3 linked regions of the Homo sapiens genome follow. The protein of the gene in region 1 interacts with the protein of each later gene in a biochemical or structural test. Each region holds a gene or a part of one and is shown on either strand. Other genes may lie near its edges.

What was found.
Region 2: the proteins of RAP1A (region 1) and RAPGEF2 form a complex in vitro, tested with the Homo sapiens proteins (2 studies listed by BioGRID and IntAct, with this or other methods).
Region 3: of the proteins of RAP1A (region 1) and RAPGEF3, one has a biochemical effect on the other in vitro, tested with the Homo sapiens proteins (one study listed by BioGRID).

The regions. Positions count from the first base shown.
Region 1 is NC_000001.11:111,692,789-111,699,788, forward strand, and holds part of RAP1A (ras-related protein Rap-1A precursor), read left to right. Parts: intron 1-2,552; coding exon 2,553-2,621; intron 2,622-4,652; coding exon 4,653-4,709; intron 4,710-7,000. UniProt on the Homo sapiens protein: Counteracts the mitogenic function of Ras, at least partly because it can interact with Ras GAPs and RAF in a competitive manner. Together with ITGB1BP1, regulates KRIT1 localization to microtubules and membranes.
Region 2 is NC_000004.12:159,098,602-159,106,108, forward strand, and holds the start of RAPGEF2 (rap guanine nucleotide exchange factor 2), read left to right. Parts: upstream 1-4,477; 5' UTR 4,478-5,561; coding exon 5,562-5,630; intron 5,631-7,507. UniProt on the Homo sapiens protein: Functions as a guanine nucleotide exchange factor (GEF), which activates Rap and Ras family of small GTPases by exchanging bound GDP for free GTP in a cAMP-dependent manner.
Region 3 is NC_000012.12:47,748,851-47,755,881, reverse strand, and holds part of RAPGEF3 (rap guanine nucleotide exchange factor 3), read left to right. Parts: coding exon of another isoform or gene 1-33; exon of another isoform or gene 34-180; intron 181-1,854; exon of another isoform or gene 1,855-1,948; intron 1,949-3,912; coding exon 3,913-3,966; intron 3,967-4,052; coding exon 4,053-4,159; intron 4,160-4,361; coding exon 4,362-4,483; intron 4,484-4,620; coding exon of another isoform or gene 4,621-4,665; coding exon 4,666-4,834; intron 4,835-5,456; coding exon 5,457-5,541; intron 5,542-5,891; coding exon 5,892-5,952; intron 5,953-6,064; coding exon 6,065-6,141; intron 6,142-6,345; coding exon 6,346-6,492; intron 6,493-6,950; coding exon 6,951-7,031. Other genes in the region: SLC48A1 (heme transporter HRG1), read right to left, coding at 1-33. UniProt on the Homo sapiens protein: Guanine nucleotide exchange factor (GEF) for RAP1A and RAP2A small GTPases that is activated by binding cAMP.

The DNA of each region.
Region 1 (7,000 bases):
GCTGAGGGTAGATACCTGTAAAATCATAGAGTATCTCTTCAAGGTTAAATAAGCTATGAATAACATCAGTTACTTTCTTGGGAGTAGGATTGGATAGCTGGGAACAAGGGTGGTAGATAAGCTTAGTTATCACTGCATAGCCTTTTGTGCCTTTTTGAATTTAGTCCTATGTCCATGAATTACCTTTTCAAAAATAATTTTGGAAAAAGTCCATAGGAGTGAAAGAGGTCTAGGGAGATACTAGAGAGAGAAGAGCAGAGCCCAGGACTGAGCTCTGAGTACCTCTCAACCTTTAGAAAGTAGATAGGATTGGAGGATCTAGCATAGAAGAAGGTGTCTTTACTTGATTCCTCAAAAGTCAAGTAAAAAAGAGGAAAGAGATGATCAGAGAGCATAGAGGCAGTTGGACATGATAAAGGAAGCAGCTTTAGTCAGGTCATGTTGCCATAACCATAATGGGGTGGGTTGAAGATTAAATGAGAGCTGAGGAAATGGAATATAGACATTTGAAGAAGCTTGATTATGAGAGGGGACAGAGAATGGGGGCAGAAGCTGGAGAGATATTGGGGTTAAGGGAGGTTTTTGTTTTTGTTTTAGAATTGGAGATAGTAAAGCATATTTGTATGCTGGGGGCAATTCCTCTCCACTGGAGAGGAAAATAAGGATACAGGAGAGGGAAAGAGGAGATGATCCAGTACAAAAACCTGAGGAATAAAATTATAATCTATGTGAATGAATGAATGAGATGTCCCTGAAAATTAAGACAGAGGATAAGATTCAGAGGAGTAGTCAAACATTACTTTTAGTAAGAAAGAAATGAGAAACGTTGGATTGTTTTGCATTTTTGCAAGTCTTATTAATGTCTGGCTTATAGAAGGCACATGGGCTCTTTTGCCTGCTTCTGTATCCAGTCTCTTTCAATAGCACATGTTCTATACCCTTTGGAAGATTCCACTGTAAACTTATGAGAGAAGAAGAAGAGTACCTCTTAGAATACATCTTAGTATTGTTAGGAAGATAGTTTGACCTTAGGGAGCCTCTGCCTTGGACCATATTTTGAGACTCTCTGCTCTAGCCTAAAGCATATTAGGAAGCTGTATTAGACTGCCTTTTTTTTTTTTTTAAATCTTGAATCAGCATCTTGCCCTGGAGTGCAGTGGCGTGATCATGGCTCACTGCATCTTCAACCTCCTACACTTAAGCAATCCTCCCACCTTAGCTACCCAAGTAGCTGGGACTACAGGTGCATGCCACCACACCTGGTTAAATTTTTAAATTTTTTGTAGAGACAGTCTCACTATGTTGCCCAGGTTGGTTTCAAATTCCTGAGCTCAAGCAATCCTCCTGCCTTGGCCTCCTAAAGTGCTAGGAGTACAGCATGAGCCACTGCATCCAGCGTAGACTGCTTTGTATATTTAAATTATGTGTCGTACTTAGAAGATGAGGTGATTAAATCCTTGATAAAAATCATGATTAAGGTTTTTGGTGTGATTATATCTTGAGTTGCCTTTGAATAATAGAAGCTTAGTAGGAGAAAGAAGTTTGTTTACTATATTTGAGTTAATCTCTTTAGCTCAAGCTAAAATAGTATATCAAATATTCCTCTGAGTAATTTAAGTGTAGATGACCTCAGTCCACATTCTTACCCTTGCTTTTTAGGCAATAATGTACCAGACCCTGTTTTAAAGTTACCTAGGAAATATCTTAAAACCGTCTTCTGTACTTTTTTCACTTACTGAATGATAAATACGTATTTTCTAGTATGTGCTTTTGGATGCCTTTAAAAGTTGATAATATCTGAAAAAGATGAATGGGCAATATTTTCCAATGGAAAAAGTAAGGCTTTGGAATCAGGAAGATGTATGTTTGAATCTCAGCTGGCAAATAGGAAGAATAACTATTTCTGGGACAAATGTGAAATTTGAATGTGGTTATAAATTAAAAGTGACTAGCTTAATGTCTGGAACATAATAGACATTCAGTAAGTTTAAATTTCCCTTTCTCTTTTCCACCACAATTTAGAAAGGCTTTAACAAATTTACAAGATGCTGCTTGAGGTCCAGCTACCTGGGAGGCTGAGGCGGGAGGATCTCTTGAGTTCAGGAGTTCAAGGCCAGCCCAGGCAACATAGCAAAGACCCTGTGTTTAAAAAAAAATTAGAACCTTTGTCACTCCATTAAGGGCAGAGGGCATGGGATAAAAGTTACTATAGATATATAAAGGGGCAATAGGAGTTTAAATATTGATAATTTTTCATGTTTTAATTAGTTCAGATATGTTATTTGTATCCTTGTATATTAAGACTTAATGTAATTAACAGTGTATTATCAGTATTGATGACAGTTTTTAACATGACTACCTCCTTTCATAATAAATGTACTCTTAGTTATGGATGTATCCTTATATTGAAAGAATTAATAATATACTTTACATTTACGTGTTTACCCAGAATTTTCACATAATTTCAATTAATCATTATAATTTGTAGGTTAAGTAACATTCAAAGGAGTTTTCCTTTAATTTTTTAATATTTCTCTTTTTTTTTCCCCCAGACAGTTCAGTTTGTTCAGGGAATTTTTGTTGAAAAATATGACCCAACGATAGAAGATTCCTACAGAAAGGTAAAATGTGAAACTTGTACACACATGCTTACAAGTAGTTCCTTATGATGTTAAAATTTGATCTGTAGATTTGCTTTTTGAAAATAGTTTTGAGAAATAATACAAATATTGTGCATCTGTTTTTAAAAGTTTCATCAAGACAGAACATTTCTTAACAGAATACTACTTTGATATTCAGAGCTCTATGTTCTGTTACTGATTAGTGACTTGTTCCTTAATGTGGACATTTTCCTGGTGGGGAATGTTGCCACATATGAAAAAATTGCATATAAATAGTAGGTGTGTTTTCAACTTACTCTTTTGTTACCAACAATTAAGACCACCTTTATGCTTGAAGTTATCCAGTGACTGAACATTTTTATTTTTGTTTAGTTTTATAAGTTTAAAGATATCTTTAGACTACCAAAAAATTAGAGTCTGTGTAATACTATAATTGGGTTATATGCCATACATTTGTCAAAACCCATAGAATGTACCATGCCAAAAGAAAATCCTAATGTAAACTGTGGACTCTTGGTGATAACGATGTGTTCATGTGGGTTCATCAGTTGTAACAAATGTACCACTCTGGTGCAGGATGTTGATGGTGGGGTGAGGCTATGCATTTGTGGTGGCAAGGAGTATGTGGGAAATCTCTGCACCTTCCCCTCAGTTTTGCTGTGAAACTAAAACTGCTCTAATAAAGTCTATTTAAAAGGGAAAAAAAATTAGGTACTTGGTCTTGACAAAAAATATTCTGTAGAAGACCAGCCAGAGTTGTGGAAAATTTTCAGTATTTTCTATGTCAAATATATTGGGTGGGGTGGAGGTTATAAAAGGCTAGTAGCCAAGAATATTTTTTAAAAAGATTAAACTTTAATAGGAAAGGATTGCTTTTGAAGACATTTTTAGAATTTACCTTTAATAGTGCTGTAACTTTTGTTGAATTAATTTGTTAGTTCATGAAGGACTACTAGTAGAGCAGTTTCATTGTCTTCAAATTGGAAACAGAATTATGCTCTAGATACATCAAGAAACTATAGTCCTAATTGATTATTCACTGAACATTCCCAGTTACAAATTTTGCAGATTATCACACTTGTCCCATAAGTGGTGGGGTGGATGAGTTTGTGGTCTGACCAGTGGTGCCCCTCATCAATGTCTGATCTGACACAGAAGCAGAGTTTAAAATAGTCTTTAGGTTAGCACATTTATTTTTAGAAGACAGTGTTGCTCTACTGAAATTTCCCCAAAGTAAGTTGCTAGTTAAAGCTTTAACTGCAAAGCAAGATCTGTACCTAAAATTCTAAGGGACTAACTTTTCTTAATCCCTTCTTTATTAAAACAGTTTTCCACACAGTTGATAGTTGATACTTTCATTAGACCAACCTTCTTTTCTTTTATAAGACCAATGGGTAAATAGAACTCAGTGTATAAAATTTCACCTTTCACATAGAGCTTTTCTAGAAAAGTGCCTTTTTCTTGAGGCACTGTTTTAGCTCATTGCTGTTTATTTTAGTACTCCTGTGTTTCTTTTATGTCTTAAACTCAGATTTTACTGTGTATTTAATTTTCTGCATATTTTAGTAAAATTTTAACAACTTGAACATGGTAAGTTGGCAAGATTTTCTTTACCCCAAAATGTTGTGCGCATTTTGAGCCATTTAATATTTTTGTACTTTGTTTTCTTTGGAGATAATATAAATACACATATGTACTTTTTTTTCTGTTAGAACTATACTTGTTCGTTGAAGTTTTCCTTAAATTTCAAAATATGACTTTTGCCTTTTCTAATAACAAATAAGAATCGTTACAGAGGTCAGAAAATATCTAAACTCAGCATTAACCATCTTGGCTTCTGTAATATGAATAGACTGTACTTGAGACCGCTGTTCTTTATTGTGGTACCAAGTTTACCCCCAGCCATTACAGCATACTGCTGGAGACAGGCTTTGTATTTGTTAATAGTTACTTTGATGGAAGAGGTGGGAAGAAAACAGAATGAGATTTTGATGTTACTCTTTAACCTTTTTTTTTTTTTTGCCCCCACAGCAAGTTGAAGTCGATTGCCAACAGTGTATGCTCGAAATCCTGGATACTGCAGGGACAGTAAGGATGTTTTCTCTTTTTTTGATAGATTTTAATTTGTGAGCAGGTTTTGTCATCTGAGTAGGTTTTGTCATCCAGATAATTCTGAGTAAAAGTAATCATTCTGATTAAGAAGAAATTCTCTGAACATAGGGATTCTTAAGTATATGAAATCAACTCTGATGTAGTTCATGCTCACATATCACAAAGTTCACCTGTAATAATCTGTGTGTTGGGTTTCTTCCTACATTGAGGTAAGGATTATGCTGTCAGTGATTTTTTAAAATTTATTTTAAATTTAGAGCTTTAGTTAATATTTGTATTTCTATGGGTTTAAATAAGACCTTGTCTCTTGGCACCATAGTCATTAATTTTTATAATTTTTTCTTTTCACTAGCATTTTGACATCTCAAGGGGCTGGTGACAGATACATGTTTTCTGAGGAAGGCAAAAATCTTCCTCAGAAGATTTAGAATTATTTTGAGCCTCCTTTTTCTAATCTTTAAATGAGTATAATGATGTTAGTACATCATAAGGTGTTTGTGATAAGCAAATGAGTTAATAATTATAAATCATTAGGCATAATGTCTGTTACACAGTATGGAATTGTGTATTTGCTTTTATTCTTCTTCATTAATACCATCACCTTTATAATTTTTATTAATAACTGATGGTTTCCAGTTATACTGCCACATAAAATACATACATTAAGCAATCTTTGCTTTTCTTTGTTTATTTTTCTCCATGCACATAGACTTGACACATTAGGCAATTCTTAGCTTTAAAATGGATGGGTTCGTTTTTTGTTTTGCTTAAGAGACGAGGTCTTGCTCTGTCACCTAGGCTAGGGTGTAGTGGTGCAATCATAGTTCACCGCAGTCTCCTGGGCTCAAACAGTCTTCCTGCCTCAGCCTCCTGGGTAGCTAGAATTAAAGGCACGTACCACCACCCCCAGCTAATAAAAAAATTTTTTTTGTAGAGGTGGTTTCGCTGTGTTGCCCAGGCTAATCTCGAACTCCTGACCTCAAGTGTTCTTCCTGGCTCTGCTTCTGAAAGTGCTGGGATTATAGGTGTGAGCCATGGCACCTGGCTGGCATTTTTAAATGTGATAAGTTGTTTAAAATTCAGCACAAAGTTTTCCACTATAATTTTTATAAATGATGGAAACATTTCAGATAGTTCAAAAAAGCATGTAAGCAAATTGGAGTGATTTTATACAACAATATAGTACTAATTATACTGTATTTTTCCATTCTTTTTTGGGAAAATGGCTTAACTCTTATCAGGGACCTTTGCCCTCACAACAAGCTTCTGGTAAAGACCTTCTGAAACTACATTTTCTATCAGCTGAATCAAGCTATCTCTCCCTCTCCCACCCTCCTGCTCTCTAATGTTTTTAGCTTCTGAATCAGCAGAATTCCCCTTTGTTTCCAGAGACCCTAATAGCTAAAATGAATACTTTCTGCTTTTTTTTTTTTTAAATCACATCCACAGTGTACGGGCATTCTTCTTTCTCTGTCCAGATTGTAAGAAGGAAGTTCTCTATCACAGAGATCTTTACTTTGTGCTATCCAATATCGTGTCTGTCTCCCATCTAGCACTCAACACGCTGTGTTATAAGGCCTATTTGCTTGTTTGTGTCCCCAGTACCTTGCATAAAACCTTACAAACAGCTGCATAATCTTGTCTCAAAATCACTCCTTACACTTTGAAGATTTTTGCTTTCTCTCTTTCACATACACTGATTCAATCAGAATTCTTAGTGATTTTACTATCCATATAGAATCTATATGGATATTATAAATGATTTACTACCCTGGCTTGGCCTGTCATTTCCTTGATGTCCATCCTACCTTTAAGGCATTCATACCATGGTTTTACTCTAGGCTATGTGATTACCAATAAGTATAATACCTCTCTAATCTAATTTCCAAGCATCTTATCCTCCATTACTCACTACTTTTTTCTTTATCCATCTCACTTCCTCTTTTTTTTTTTTTTTTGAAACAGGGTCTCTCTCTGTCACCCAGGCTGGAGTGCAGTGGTGTGAACACAGATCACTGCAGCTTCAACCTCCCAGGGTCAAGAAATCCTCCCACCATAACCTCCTGAGGAGCTGGTGCTACTGCAGGTGCATACCACCACACCTAGCTTTTTTTTTTTTTTAATTTTTTGTAGAGACAGGGTCTCACTATATTGTCCAAGCTGGTCTTGAACTGGACTCAAGGGATCCTCCTGTCTTTGGCCTCCCAAAGTGCTGGGATAACAGGTGTGAGCCACTGCACCCAGGCCATCTCATTTCCTTTAGTGCC
Region 2 (7,507 bases), on another chromosome or scaffold:
TCCCCCAGTGATTTTCTAGATAATATGATGGTAGTAGAAACAGAACAAAGAAACTCTCATTTTTACACTTGCCTTTATGAGGCAGCATAATAGATAGCTTACTTTGATTATGGTTTGCTGACACAGTTTGGTTTAGACTAATTGGCAGAGTGGCAGATCTTTGTCTAATTCTGTCTTCCAGGTTGTGCCTAGCACATTACTGGTGCTCAAATGTTAATAAAACAGCAATGCATGCCAAGTATCTGATGTCCTAGATGCTGAGTGGTGATATGCATTATTGACATATGTAGATAAGTAGGTTATACATAGTGTGAAAATTAGCTTTAATTGAAGTTAAATGATAGCTTAGAAGTTGACAGTGAGTTAGTCATTTTGTTGGTGGATAAGACATACTATTATGTCTTACCTGAGGTGATTGATGTAATTCAGTGTTACAGTAGAGCACACAGAGAAAAAAGACTTGGGTGTGCAACTGGAATTCCTAACTCTTGCTGTGAGATCTGGCAGAGAGGCATTCCTGTCTGGTGTAGAAGGTCCCCTCTAGCATCCCCCCTCCCCATGGGGCAAGGAGTTCCATACTCTCTGAGCACCTGGAACCCTGGTCCTGACTGCCTTGCCACTTCCAGACCTCATCTTCCAAGGCTGGCCCCTGGCCCGAGGAATCACCAAGGGGTGGCTTTTTTGAGGGGTGTGATATCACTTAGATGTGTAGGCTGGGTTGTCCTTGTCCTTTTTTTTTTTTTTTTGAGATGGAGTCTCACTCTGTCACCCAGGCTGGAGTGCAGTGGCTTGATCTCAGCTAACTGCAAGCAACCTCCACCTCCCAGGTAAAAGCAAATTTTCTGCCTCAGCCTCCTGAATAACTGGGACTATAGGCACACGCCACCACGCCAGGCTAATTCTTGTATTTTTAGTGGAGACAGGGTTTCACCATATTGGTCAGGCTGGTCTGGAACTCCTGACCTCGCGATCTGCCCACCTCGGCCTCCCAAAGTACTGGAATTAGTACAGGCATGAGCCACCGCACTAGCTGGGTTGTCCTCTTATGTGTGAGCCTTTCCATGGGATAGGATGAAGCTGAGATGGAAAGAAAAGGGGATTCCAGTTGCAGACCAGATACCAGTACTCCCTGCAGTAGTACTCAGTACTCCCCCAGTTAATTTGTAGCTTTTAGTATTTATGATAGAGTATATGGATCCCCATTTGTTAGCTGGCTCCAGAACTTTCTAAAGTTAAAGGCAGTCCGGGAACTAGGACAAGTCATGTAGCCTATTTTAGTGTCAGTTCTTCATCTGTAAATAAGATAACACTGTCCCACTAGCCTCAGAGAGTTGCAATGATGAGAATAATCTTAAATATAACTACCATTTATTGAGTATATACTGTTGTTAAACCACTATGCAAGGCACTTTGCATGTATTATCTTGGATCGTCACAAATCTTCAGGGTATGCAACTTTTTCTTTTTTTGTGACAGGGTCTTGCTCTGTTACCCAGGCTGGAGTGCCATGGTGTGATCATAGCTCACTGCAACCTTGAACTCCGGGGCTCAAGATAACCTCCCACCTCAGCCTCCTGAGTAGCTAGGACTGCAAGTGCACCCCACCATGCCCCGCTCCTTTTTTTTTTTTAAGTTTTTGTGCAGCCAGTGGTCTTGCTATGTTGACCAGGCTGGTCTTGAACTCCTGGCCTCAAGCTATCCTCCTGGTTCAGCCTCCCAAAGTGCTGGGATTACAGGTGTAAGCCACTTTGCCTGGCCAGACTATTCAATTTGTACTCTCTTTTTATAAAACAGAAAACAGGCTCAGAGAGGTTAAGTTTCCTCTCCCAGTTTTCTCCCCGCAACCAGGGACACAAGTGAGATAATGTATGTAAAAATCTCATACAAATACAAGGTAACATGAACTACTTCATGTATCCATTTAATACCTATTTGTTGGCTGCCTGTCTTGTGTTGAGGATATAGCAGTAAATAAAAGGGACAAACATCCCTGACTTAGAAGCTTACATTACAGTGGAGGGATAAAACAATAAATAAAATAAATAAGTATAGATGGTTCTCAATTTACGATGGTCAATAAATTGACTTTCGATTTTTCCACTTTATAATGGGTTTATCAGGGTATTAAATGCATTTCTGACTTACAATATTTGCGACTTACAATGGTTTCTCAGGATGTAACCCCATCCTAAGTGGGCAAGCACCTGTACAATATACAGTATGTTAGGTGGTAAGTAAAGCGACGAAGATAACCAGAGTGTATGGAGTTACAGGGAAGGTGACATTCAAATGAAGATATGATGACAATGAGGAACAACATTCTATATTTTGGTTGTTGTGTGTGTGCATTTTTCTTTTTGTTTTTTGTTTTTGTGGGTGCAAGTGGGGTGGGGAGAGGGGGAGAGATAATCCAGGCAGTAGAGGGAACAGCAGATGGAAAGGTCATGAGACTGGAATTTGCTGTTTCAGAAACAACATGGAGGCTAATGTGCTTGGGAACAGAATAGTAGAAGAGGTCAGAGAGATAAAGGTCCATAGGATATTCAGGCCATGGTAAGACTTTGGCTTTTACCTTGAGTGGTATGAGGAGCTAAGCAGAGGAATGATTTGAGAAGGAGTGAAAAGAATTCACACTTTGGCTGCTGTGTTGGAAATGAACTGTATGGCAAGCAAGGTTAGAAAGAGGGGGACCAGGTGGGTGGTTATGACAAAGTGCTGGCCAGACATGATGCTGGATTGCACCAGGGTCATGGCAGTAGAAGTGGTAGATAAAGGTTAGAGTTCAGATATGGCATTCTGGAGGTTGAGCTGACGATTTTTACTGACACTTTTGAGGTATAACAGAAAGAAAGGAGTCAAGGAAGTCAACGTTTTCACCCAGGAAGTGAGAATGGTGTAGATGTGATTAACAGAGGATGGGGAAGGCTGTGGGTGTCTGAGACAGGAGATCTGGAGCCTGGTTTGCACATGTGAATTCTGAGATGTCTATTAGACACCAGGTGGAGATGTCAGTTATATTTTTTCACTTCATTGGGTTTGAATTCTTTTATCTGCCTCTCTCCTTTTTTCAGAGCTGTATTGGCACTTATTCATGTTCCTTTGCTTTCAAGGTAGTGGCCTATGTCATAGAGAATTTGATGTTGGCGCTCAACTAAGAGGTGAAAGAGAAATATAGAGAAGCAGTTCCAGCAAGAGTAATATAAAAAGGTCTACAGATACAATTTGTAACTCAGATTCCCTTTCACAAGGTTGGGCAGGGACAGTCCCTTTGCTAGGAAGTCACACAAGCTGTTTAGTGCACACAGGTGACTTAAGGAACCCCAAAATGTTAGCTGACAATCTATTCCAAGTGTTTAAACTAGATGTTGAAAATCATGTTTGAAAAGTTCAACGCAGTAGCTCATACATAAAACTCATTGTGTCTATAGATATCAAAATAAGAACTTGTGGGGGGTGGGGGCAAACAAAAATAAATCCCTGGGACCAGAACAGCAGAGTGGTCCCCGATGCTTGGGCTGACCTTAACACACCTCTACGTGGCCGGGGCAAGGAGTGGGGGGGAGCTGAGGGAATCAGCAGGAGCGGTGACATCTTGAAGGACGAGGTATTGTTTCTGCACCATGTGGGTCCGGTTTGGAAATTTGAGCATCTAGAGGAGGAGGCTTGTTCTGTCCAAGGCAAAGCCAGACCTACCAATAAATGTTTCTGATTATGTCACAGAACTTGCCATCCTGGTCTGTCGCTAAGGAGTGATCAACTTTAAATCTGGAGTGTTTGTTGGTCTAGGGGTGGTAGTGGGTCTGGTGTTGAAACCTCTCTGCCTAATTTCGTGGTCATTTTACTGTCTGAGGTGCCAGAGTGGGCTTGGAAAGCAGGGGAGGGTGCAGCAAATTACAAATAAGCAAAATAAATCCTAAGAGGATTTATCGCCACAGAAGCAACTCGGACGCAACTCTTGGGCTCAAAAAGAATGCCCAGTACAGCCCGGGCTGGTGGGCCGGTCTTTTGCCCAAGGTTAGCTTTCAGCCCCTGGGCGGCGGCGTGGCGCCAGGAGCGGGCGGGGAGCAGCGACCCGACGCGGCTGGGTCTCCTAGTAGGGCGCGTCGGGTGTGGGGAGGGGGCGCGGCGTGAGACAGTGGGGGACACTGCGTGAGGAAAGCCCTGCGCTTCTCTCCGGGGCACCAGGACTTGCGCCCCCTCTTCGGGTCCAGGCCGCGCGCGGGACCCGACAGCCCGGCCGAGGGCTCCGCGACCCACTTGCGGCCAGAGCGCTGCTCACCTGGGCGCCGCCGAAGGTGCCGCTCAGACGCGAGGGCGCGGCCGCTGGCGGGCGGGGAGCGGGGAGGCGGGACCCGGCGCGACGGGGCTGCCCCGCCCCCCGATGATGCGGCGGCCGCCGACTCGCCCCCACGCTGTCACTCATTCCTCACCATGGTTGCAGCACAAAGCAACAAGCCCCAGAGGCCGCTTCCTCCCTGAGGAGCGGCTCCGGCGGCCGGAGAAGGCGCAGGAGGAGGAAGAGGCGGAGGAAGAGGAGGGGAATCGCCGCTTCCCAAACACTCTCTCCGAGGGGGCTGTGCGCGGCTCTCGGCTTTCGGCCCTCGGACGCCCGCGCCGGGAGTCCGAACCCGGGCTGTCCGCGGCCCCCTCTTCCCCCTCCTCCGCCCCGCGCAGACGAGGAACAAAGTTGCCGAGAGCGACTGGGCCGGAGGGCTGCAGCCCGGGCCGGGTGCTCTGGCCGCGGCGGCGCCGGCGCCGGGGCAGCTCCGCTCCGGGCGCGCTGATGGGGGGAGGCGGCGGCGGCGGAGCCCACAGCGGCGGCCCGAGCAGCAGAGGCGGCGGCGGCGGCGGCTGGGCGGCCCGAGGGGATGCAGCAGCAGTCGGGAGGGACGGCCGAGCCCAGTAGACAGAGACCAGGAGCGGCGGCCGAGGCGATCGGGCTTCGCAGCGCCCGGACCTGAGCCAGACCCACCTGGTCCGTCCTCCCGACCGGCGGCCGAGGCGCCCGAGGACTGGGGACGCGGAAGATCCAAGTGATTCTCGGAGACCCCTGGGCGGCGGCTGCGCAAGCCCCTGAGAGGAGGGGGCGACCCTCAGCGCCGTGGGGGAGGAGGCTCCGCCTGCCCACAGCCCTCCCCACTGCCACTCGTACCTCCCTAAAAATAACTCGGGCCCGCTGGGGCCAGGAGGAGCCGCCACTGTCCCCCGAGTGGAGCCGGGGAGGCGTGTCGAGCCAGGGCCGGAGGAAGCCGGCGGAGCGGCGAGGAAGAGGAGGAGGAGGAGGAAGGGGAGTTCCGCCTGCGGGCCGCATCGCACGGCAGCCTAGGGGCGCCGCGACCCTCCCGGCTGCGTCCAGCCCCTCGCGCCTGTACCGCGCTCTCGGCCGCCGGGCCCAGCCGAGCCGCCCCCCCGCGGGCCCCGCGCCGCCGCCGCCGCGGTTTGGCTGATTAGTCGCGGGCGGGCGGGCGGGCGCAGCGCGCAGGGCGGAGGCAGCAGCGGCGCTGGGCCGGGAGGAGGCCGGCCAGGGTGCGGAGCGGCCCCGGCCCGCTCCCAGAGGGGAGATGGCGTCCTACGTAGATAACAGCTTCCGCCAGGCGGTGATGAAGAATCCCCCCGAAAGGACCCCCCAGGTGAGAACGCGGCGGCCGCCTGCCCTTGGCCGGATTTCTGCCTCGCAGGCTGCGTCTTCCCCTGTCCCCCCACCTCCTTCCTGACACAGTTCGCCCCGAGCACCCCACTTCTTGCATCAGGACCCCCAACTTCCAAAGGCATCCCACCTCCGAGTCTTTTACTCCGCCTATCCTGGTTTTATTTTTCCCTCTCCTTGACATTCTGCTCCTTAACTCTTCCCTCCCCATGACTGACCTTTCCCACTATGTTGCCCAGCCGAGAGAGAGAGAGAGAGAGAGAGAGAGAGAGAGAGAGGGAGAGACAGAGAGAGAGAGAGAGAGAGTGTGTGTGTGTGTGTGTATGTGTGTGAATGTGTGAATTCTCTAGCTTTCCCTCTCCCCAGCCGCCCTCCGTGGCCTCTGAATCTCAGGGGATGGAGTCTCATCTCCCCTCGGGCAGCGACTCTTGCTCCCTCTGACTCCAGATCCGTTCCTCCCCTTGCAAGTGACCCTTGGAGTTCAGTGGTGTTTGAAAGGTATAGGAGGAAACCTGTACGGTTGTGCTAAAGACAAATCCATGCTGACCTTCAGTAAAACATTGAGGTGTTTGTATGTTTACTGTTTTGCTTTTATTTTTTAAAGGATACTGCTTTCAATTGAAGGGAAAAAAAGTTGAATAGCTAAGTTAGTGCTTTTAGTTTAAATTGCAGACATAGCTGCAGAGCAGGCATGTTCCAGTACACCCTCGGGAAGGGCACCCTGCGGATTCTTTTGGTGTTGCACAACCTTGTCAAAATTAGATAAGTTTGTTAACCTTTATACATTTGTTTACCTGCAGGCTTACTCTTCTCTTACTTATAGCGGCTGATAGGGTTGGATTTGGTTGTCTCAAGTTTTACTGGAGAGGGGGAAATTTTATAAAAATGTGGTAGCTTAATTTTCTCCGCCTTTAGTTGCTGACTGGATAATGACGCATATTCCTAAGCGTTGGGATGGTGACTATAGGAGATCCTGCCTGCCAACCCTCTTAAGACAAATAAGCCCTCCTGATCCTTGGGACCATCAGACATTTAGGATCTAATGCTTGAAAGTGTTGCTTCGCTTGTTAGATGTTGGATGCCATCTGTTCAAATCCAAATGCTCTCCTTCTCTGATGTTGATTATTATTTACTGTGGGGAGAGCATAATAAAATAGACTCTTCCCCTGGCTGCCTTTGGACAAGCCCCAAGAGTGGCACCTGGTACCGTTTTTGATTTTTCATTTTCCTTGATGGAGCTGTCACATCTGGGAGATCATGGATAGATTGCACATATTTATCAAACGTGTGGAAGATGGCTGTAATTTTACAAGAAAATTTATCTGTCTCCAGAAAGTTCCCATTCTAAAAGACTATTTTTATCCCAACAAGGAATGTCCTGCATTGATCTTGTTCTTCTCTTGGTGTTGCACACGCTGCCTTTCCTATGCCTTTCTCATCTATTTGTTTTAAAATGGTCAGTTGGATCAGTCTTCTGCATCTGAAAATGCACATTCCCTGTCTCAGTGTGAAGGAAAAGCAGATTTCAGTGAGATATTTCATTTCCTTTCAAGAATATTGTTTTAAGTGCCAAGTGAAATTACGCATGCTGAGAATATTAGAACCTAGCAAGGCTGGTCAGAAAATGATGTCAGAGGCCTTTGGTGGAAATTAGAGAAGGGGGAAGTGGTGCATTTGGTTGATTAGTTAGAAGAATAACAATGACTAAAACCTACTATCAGGTTGGGGGGCGGGTCACCAAACAAGACTAGAAGAGACAAAACCTCCACTGTGACTGTGGGCCCACTGTGCCAAATAAATGAACTGTTAAACTTTCCTGTTCCCCTGCCAGTTGTGTAGAATAGAGTAAAAACTGACCCA
Region 3 (7,031 bases), on another chromosome or scaffold:
TTCCGTGAGGGAATGAGTGCCAGCTGTGAGCATGCACGCCCATGGTGAAGGGGTGGAGCCCGAGTCCCAGGAAGACAGCACTGCCAGTTATTGAGGCCAGACCTCCCTCTTCGAAAGCCAAGGGGAAAACCCATCAACCTCCCAGAGAAGAAGTCTGAAGACAGCTCTTTCTGTTCCTACCTAGACCAGGACAAGAGAAAATGAAAGCGGGTTACAGTAGGAGGGCTTGCAGTTAGATACAGACTAAGATAAGACTTAACAGCTATTGCAAAAGTGACACTGGAATGGGATGGAAGAACATCTTTGGAAAATAAGAGGGGGAGGTGAGATCTTGTCTGATGTCCGGGGGCAGGGGCAAGATCAGAGTGACCTGTGGTGGGTTCTACTAGCTCAGGGAAGTCTGAGATGATTCTCTTTGTGTGACTGTTCTTGGGGAAGTGGCCCTGTTTTGTAACTCCGAGAACGCACTTTCATTCAACCTATCCAAATAATAGTAGTAGTTAATAGTTATACAGTACTTATGTGCCAGACATTATTGAAAGAGGTTTGCCTTTATCATATCAAATAATTCTCACAACAGCCCTGTGAGATAGGTACTAATGTCATCATCTCCATTTTATAGATGTGAAAACAAAGCCACAGAGAGGTTAAGTGACAGATTCAGAGTTACGCAGCTGCTAAGTGGCAAAGCTGGGCTTTGGTCCCAGGCAATCTGGCTGCAGAGTCCAAGCTCATAACCACATAACCACCATGCTGCACTTCTCTCTTGCTACGAACAGTAACACTGACACCTTAAGGCATCATCCCGGCCCCATGCACCCTTCCCCTGTCCCACCACAAGCAGCCCTAGCTTGACACCTTAGCTATGGCCCAAGGGAACTGGTCTGACAGGTCCCCAGGCTGTCTGGCTCTGTGCCTGTCTCTCCAGCCCAGCTCTGACATTCAGTGACAGGGAGTGAGGGTGGGGCAGGCCACAGTGCTGGTGCCAGGGGAGTTAGTGCCTCCTCTTCCGCCCTGAACCCTTTCTGTTCAGGAATGAGAGTGGGGAGTGGGTGAGGAGGACCTTCACCTTGACTCATATCAGCTGCTTCTTCCCAACTGAGAACCCTGAAACTGACATGACTAGCATTGTATTTTTTTGCACTGTGTCCTGGTAATAGGGCCCATCATGAAATAATAACATCTGATCAAGTCAACTAAACTTACTAAGTAGTTACTATGATCCAGGCACCATTCCAAGTACTTTATATTATTAACTTTTTGATCCTCATAACCCTTTGTGATAGGTACTATTCATATCATCAACCCCAGTTTACAGATGAGGAAACCGAAGCACTGCAAACTTCAGTAATCAGCACGAGCTCACACAACCAGATGGTAACGCAAAAGCTAGGATTTGAACCCAAGCATCTGGCTGCAGAGCCTACACACTTGACCACTGCCCTTGAATAGCAGCCCTCTCTCCGCCCCATCCTAGAAGGTTGGCAGGCACACAAACATCCTGGGGGCACAGAGAGGGTAGAATAACAAACCTGTCTATCTTTGTCTAACCCAGTGGTTTCCAAACTTACTTGCCCACAGAACTTGCCTGAAGGCAGAATACCTCTACTGTCTGTGCCTATAGCACAAAGCTGAGGAAACATGGGAATAGGCATAATGGAAGACGGTAGGGCATAATGCTAAGAGCATGGCCTTTGGAATCAGACATAGGTATGAATCCTGGTGCCCTTATTGACCAACAGTTAGGGCAGGTTATAGAACCTTGGAGCTTTCTTTTCTCTAGCTGTGAAATAGGAAACAAATACCTACCTCTGGGGTCAGCACCAGTAGCAGAGTTATTCAGTAGAATCTTACCTTTCTAAATAGTTGTGTGATCTCTCTGGGCTTTTGCTTTCCTTGTCAAAATGAGAGGGATTCCTTAAAGTCCCTTCCTCAGTGCTCATGGACTAGGGCCATTCTCTGACCTGCATCCTCATCCCCTGGGGGAGGACAGGAAATGACCAACCTGGCCACGTGACCCAGCACCACCCCTCCTAATGTGCCCTCTCCCAAGTCAGAATAATACCAGGAAGGGGGCTGGTGCTGGAGCCTGGGTTGTGGGCTCCAATGGGAGTTGGGGCAGGGACTGGGGCCACCTGGGCATTTTGATATGAACAACAAGTCATTAGCACTCAGGCACTGTTTGTTCCGACACAGGGGGCTGGCTGGGTAGCATTCCTGCCCTTCCTCCCTTCCCTGGCTCCTCCTCCTTCTCATTTCCTGTCGTTAAGTCTCCAGGGCTCTGTGTCTGGCACTGGGCTGGGCCCCATGACCCGGGCAGGGATACCCTTGGGACACCTAGTGACTTCCGCCCAGCCCTGGGCCAGGCGCCTGCACATGCCAGACCTCAGGCCTCTGCTTGGGCACGCAGTGCCAAGATGCCTGTGCCCAGGGCCCTGCCAGCACCAGGACTGGTTGTACTGCAACTCCCCAGCAGGTCCTTTTCAGGGACCTGAAGCCAGATGGGAAGCTAGGAGAGAGGTGGCTGGTGAGGGGAGAGGAAAGGGGCAGGTGGGGTGGGTGTAGGGAGACTGAGAATGGGAGCACTTCTGGGTGGGAACTTGAACTTCTCCACAGCTGTCTGGCTGTCCGAAGTATGCGCAACTGAGTTACACAAGGTACCTCACCTCCAGGCTTTTATTTCCTTGTAAGTGACAGAGGACAGACAATGCCTGCTCTGCCTATTTCACATCTGATCCTATTTTACATGAGATCCAATGAAATCAAGGGGGCGATTGTGCTTTGTAAACTGTAAAGTGCTTTGTAAACTGTAAAGTGAGCCCTTTGAGAGGGCTCGTAGATGGTAGAGCATCCTGTCCAGAGATGTCCACAAACCCCAGATTCTCAGGTGGTAGGAAGAGAAGGGTCGTGAGGGGCTTTCATGGCCATTATTCCAGGGCGTACAGGCCCGGGAGTTCCAAATGGCTTGTTACCAAGGGCAGGGAATCCTTACTAAGCAGTGTTTCCATGATAAAGTGCGTCTTCCTGAGCCAGTCCTGTGTGCCACCAAGGACTTATTCACTCTCGCAGGGCACAGGCTAGCAACATCTCAGAGAAGAAAGACGCTTTCCAGCAAGCAGCCCCACCCTAATGCCTCACAGATGAGTACTAGCTAACATGTGCATACAACTATATGCCAGGCAATGCTTTAAACATTCGATGTGTAGCAACTCATTTAATTCTCCCAAAACCTCATGAGTCGGTATTATTAGTGCTTTGTAGATTTTACAGTTCAGGAGACTCAGGTAGGGAGGGAGAGGTTAAATCATTTGTTTCAGGTCACATCTGCCATCAGTGGGGAAGCAGAGATTTTAATCCAGGAGCCTGGCTCCAGGGTTTGTGTTTTGACAACCAGGCTGATCCGAGGCCCAGAGATGGCAAGACACCTGCTCATGGGCCTGTGGAAGGACACAGAACCTGGCTGGGGATCAGGTCTGTGACCCCAGCCCAGGAGCGGATGTTCCCAGGCCTCCTGAGCTGCTCACATCCTGGCTCCCATCTCCCAGGTCTTCTTATCTCATGTCCTCATGCTCCTTCCAGCTCCCTCACTTCTTTCCCCCAACAGGGGCAGTTCACCTGGGGGCATGGGCACACCTGGGCCCTGAGTAAGCAGAATGGGTGTCTTAGGGCTCTCAACTGTAGGGAGGCAGTCCTTGAGTTGGGTTTGGTGATCAGGATGGCAGGGTGGGAAGAGGCGATGCCCGGGGCACAGGGTGCTGAGTGAATATTTGTTTATTTGCTGAAGGAGTGGCCACATGGATGCATTTGGGGTTGGGGCCTAGGCAAGAGTGGGAGTGATGGGGGAGGGGAGGTATCCAAGAGCTGGGCTTGAAGACCTCACACTGATGTGCACGCTTTCCCTGCTGCCCCCAGACACCACTCACCAACAGCGAGGAGTCCCTGGATTTCAGCGAGAGCCTGGAGCAGGTAGAAGCCTGGGCAGGGTGGAGCTGGGACAGGCAGCACCATGAGGGGTTCAGAGCCTGAACTGCTGTGCCCTTCCTCCCTCTAAGGCCTCCACAGAGCGGGTGCTCAGGGCTGGGAGGCAGCTGCATCGGCATCTGCTGGCCACCTGCCCAAACCTCATCCGAGACCGGAAGTACCACCTTAGGCTCTATCGGTGAGTGGAGGCCCTGCTGCCTCCTTGCCCAGCCTCACTGCTTTCTCTCCGTTCCACTTTATGTCAGGCACCTGGGCCTCACCCTGCTTCTAGCACAGGGACGAACCAGGCTTGGGCCTCAGAGGGTGCCTTTCTAATGCATAGTTCCTCCCTCTCCCTGCCACCCTCCTTCCACTGGCCTGTCCCCTTCTACCTTCCATAGGCAGTGCTGCTCTGGCCGGGAGCTGGTGGATGGGATCTTGGCCCTGGGACTTGGGGTCCATTCCCGGAGCCAAGTTGTGGGAATCTGCCAGGTGCTGCTGGATGAAGGTGCCCTCTGCCATGGTGAGCCCGAGCCCAGGGTGGGGTGCCCCGGGCTGGGCTGGGCAGTGAGGGGGACAGGACAGGGCAGTCCTGGGAAGCAGGCACTACTTGGGGAGTGCTGAGGGGTGGCATCGCAGTGGGGTTTCATACCCACATAGCCTCAATTTCCTCTCCTCCCCCACGCCTGGGCCTCTGCCCCCCAGTGAAACACGACTGGGCCTTCCAGGACCGAGATGCCCAATTCTACCGGTTCCCCGGGCCCGAGCCCGAGCCCGTGAGAACTCATGAGATGGAGGAGGAGTTGGCCGAAGCTGTGGCCCTGCTCTCCCAGCGGGGGCCTGACGCCCTGCTCACTGTGGCACTTCGAAAGCCGTGAGTCAGAATCCCTGCACCCCGTGACCCCAGGCCTCACACAGCACTCAGATTTCACGGTTTCTCAGATTGATCTCTGGGGGCATCCCTTACCTGTTGTGGAGGGAAGGGAACCTGGCTGGCCCAGAAGCCCCTGGCGCTGACTGCCACGGACTCACTGTGTGACCTGGATCCCTCCACACTCCCAAACCCCCCCAAGTCAGTTTCTTCCTCTGTAGATGAGGATGTTGGACCAGGGGGATCTCTGAGGACCCTTCCCACTCAGAGACACAGTTGTGGCTGAAAGCAAGTGGGTTTTGGAAACTGCAGTCCGGTGGGTCCAGGTTCAAATTCCAGCTGGACTGGCTACTGGCTGGGTGACCTTGAGCCTCCTCATGCTAGTTCCTGTTCTGTCAAGTGAGGATGATAGAACCACTCCTTAGGGTTGTTGTGAAACAATGCATGCAAAATGCTCATCACAAGCGCTGCCACATGTGCGCACTCAGTAAAGGTTAGCTGCTGCTGATAACTGTCACTGCTGAGGCACCGTCTGGCACAGGCATCGGCTGGGTGGGTGGAGTGGCTCCCTGCACCTGACGGGCCCACAGTTCACAGTGTGCTCCCATTCCTCCTGTCCCTGCAGCCCAGGTCAGCGCACGGATGAAGAGCTGGACCTCATCTTTGAGGAGCTGCTGCACATCAAGGCTGTGGCCCACCTCTCCAACTCGGTCAGTCCTGCCCCTCCCAGCCCTGCCCCGTACCAGGCATCTTCTCTTCCTGTGACTTCCCTGAAACTCCAACTGCTGGGCCAGAGGGCATTTCTCCACTTCCATCTATGGCTGGAAATTTTCAGTCTGATTTCTTGCCCCCGGCGCTGCCCTGTCTGAAAATCCTTCCGCCTCTCTCAGCCCATTTTCTCCACTTGCTTTGTCTCCTGCTGAATCCTGGGAACACCTGACCTGGCCACATCTTTGTCCCCCAGCACTTGTGTCTTTGGACCTAACCACACCCCTAGCAAAAGCCTGGCTGCTCTGCACATGAACTTGTCGCCACCGACTCTCCTATCTCCACCACACAGGTGAAGCGAGAATTAGCGGCTGTTCTGCTCTTTGAACCACACAGCAAGGCAGGGACCGTGTGTAAGTCCAGCAGGGCATAAGAAGCCAGGCACAGGGCCTGGACATGGGCAGAAGGATGTGTGAAGGAATGGTAGGTGCCAGGAGGGCCCGGTCTGAGGTATGCTTCTGTCAGTGTTCAGCCAGGGGGACAAGGGCACTTCGTGGTACATTATCTGGAAGGGATCTGTCAACGTGGTGACCCATGGCAAGGTGAGCCCTCCCTCCTCCCCACCCCAGTGCCCTGGGTCCTAACTGCTCCCTGGTCCATGTCCTCATGGGCAGTGCCTTTGTTGATCTACTGCTGCTGACCCCGTGTCTCCTGTGTGGGTTGTTCTCCTGCCGTGGGTCTGTCCTGGCAAGAGCTGGGGGCGGCAGGGGCGGCAGGGGCGGGCTGAGACTGAGGCCTGGCTGCAGGGGCTGGTGACCACCCTGCATGAGGGAGATGATTTTGGACAGCTGGCTCTGGTGAATGATGCACCCCGGGCAGCCACCATCATCCTGCGAGAAGACAACTGTCATTTCCTGCGTGTGGACAAGCAGGACTTCAACCGTATCATCAAGGTGCTGCTGCTGGGGTTGGGGAGGGCAGGGGCCATTCGTCCAGAGAAGTGATGTGGAGAGAGGAGTAGGGACCAGAGCAGAGGGCCTGTAAGAAGCAGGGCAGGTAAGAGATGCTGGGCTATGACAGCTGGCAGTGGGACCATAGCCCTGGGTGTGTGTGAGAAGGTGAAGCCCATAAGGCACAGAAGGAGTTCAGTGAGACCAGTGACTTCAGGCTCAGTGTGGGAGACCAGGGGAAGGATGGGCATGCAGGGGGCGGGGGACTAGGCTGTGGGGGAGGCAGGATGCATGGAAGGTAGGGAAGGCTGAGGAGGTGGAGCCAAAGTCGGAGGTGGGAGAAGGGCTGTGGGTCCCTGTGGGACCCTCATGGGGCTCAGGGGCTGGAATGAAGGAGGTAGATGAGAGGGTCTAAAGCTGGAACATCATGAGTTGAGCATGGGATGTGGCCTGTTCTCCAGGATGTGGAGGCAAAGACCATGCGGCTGGAAGAACATGGCAAAGTGGTGCTGGTGCTGGAGAGAGCCTCTCAGGGCGCCGGC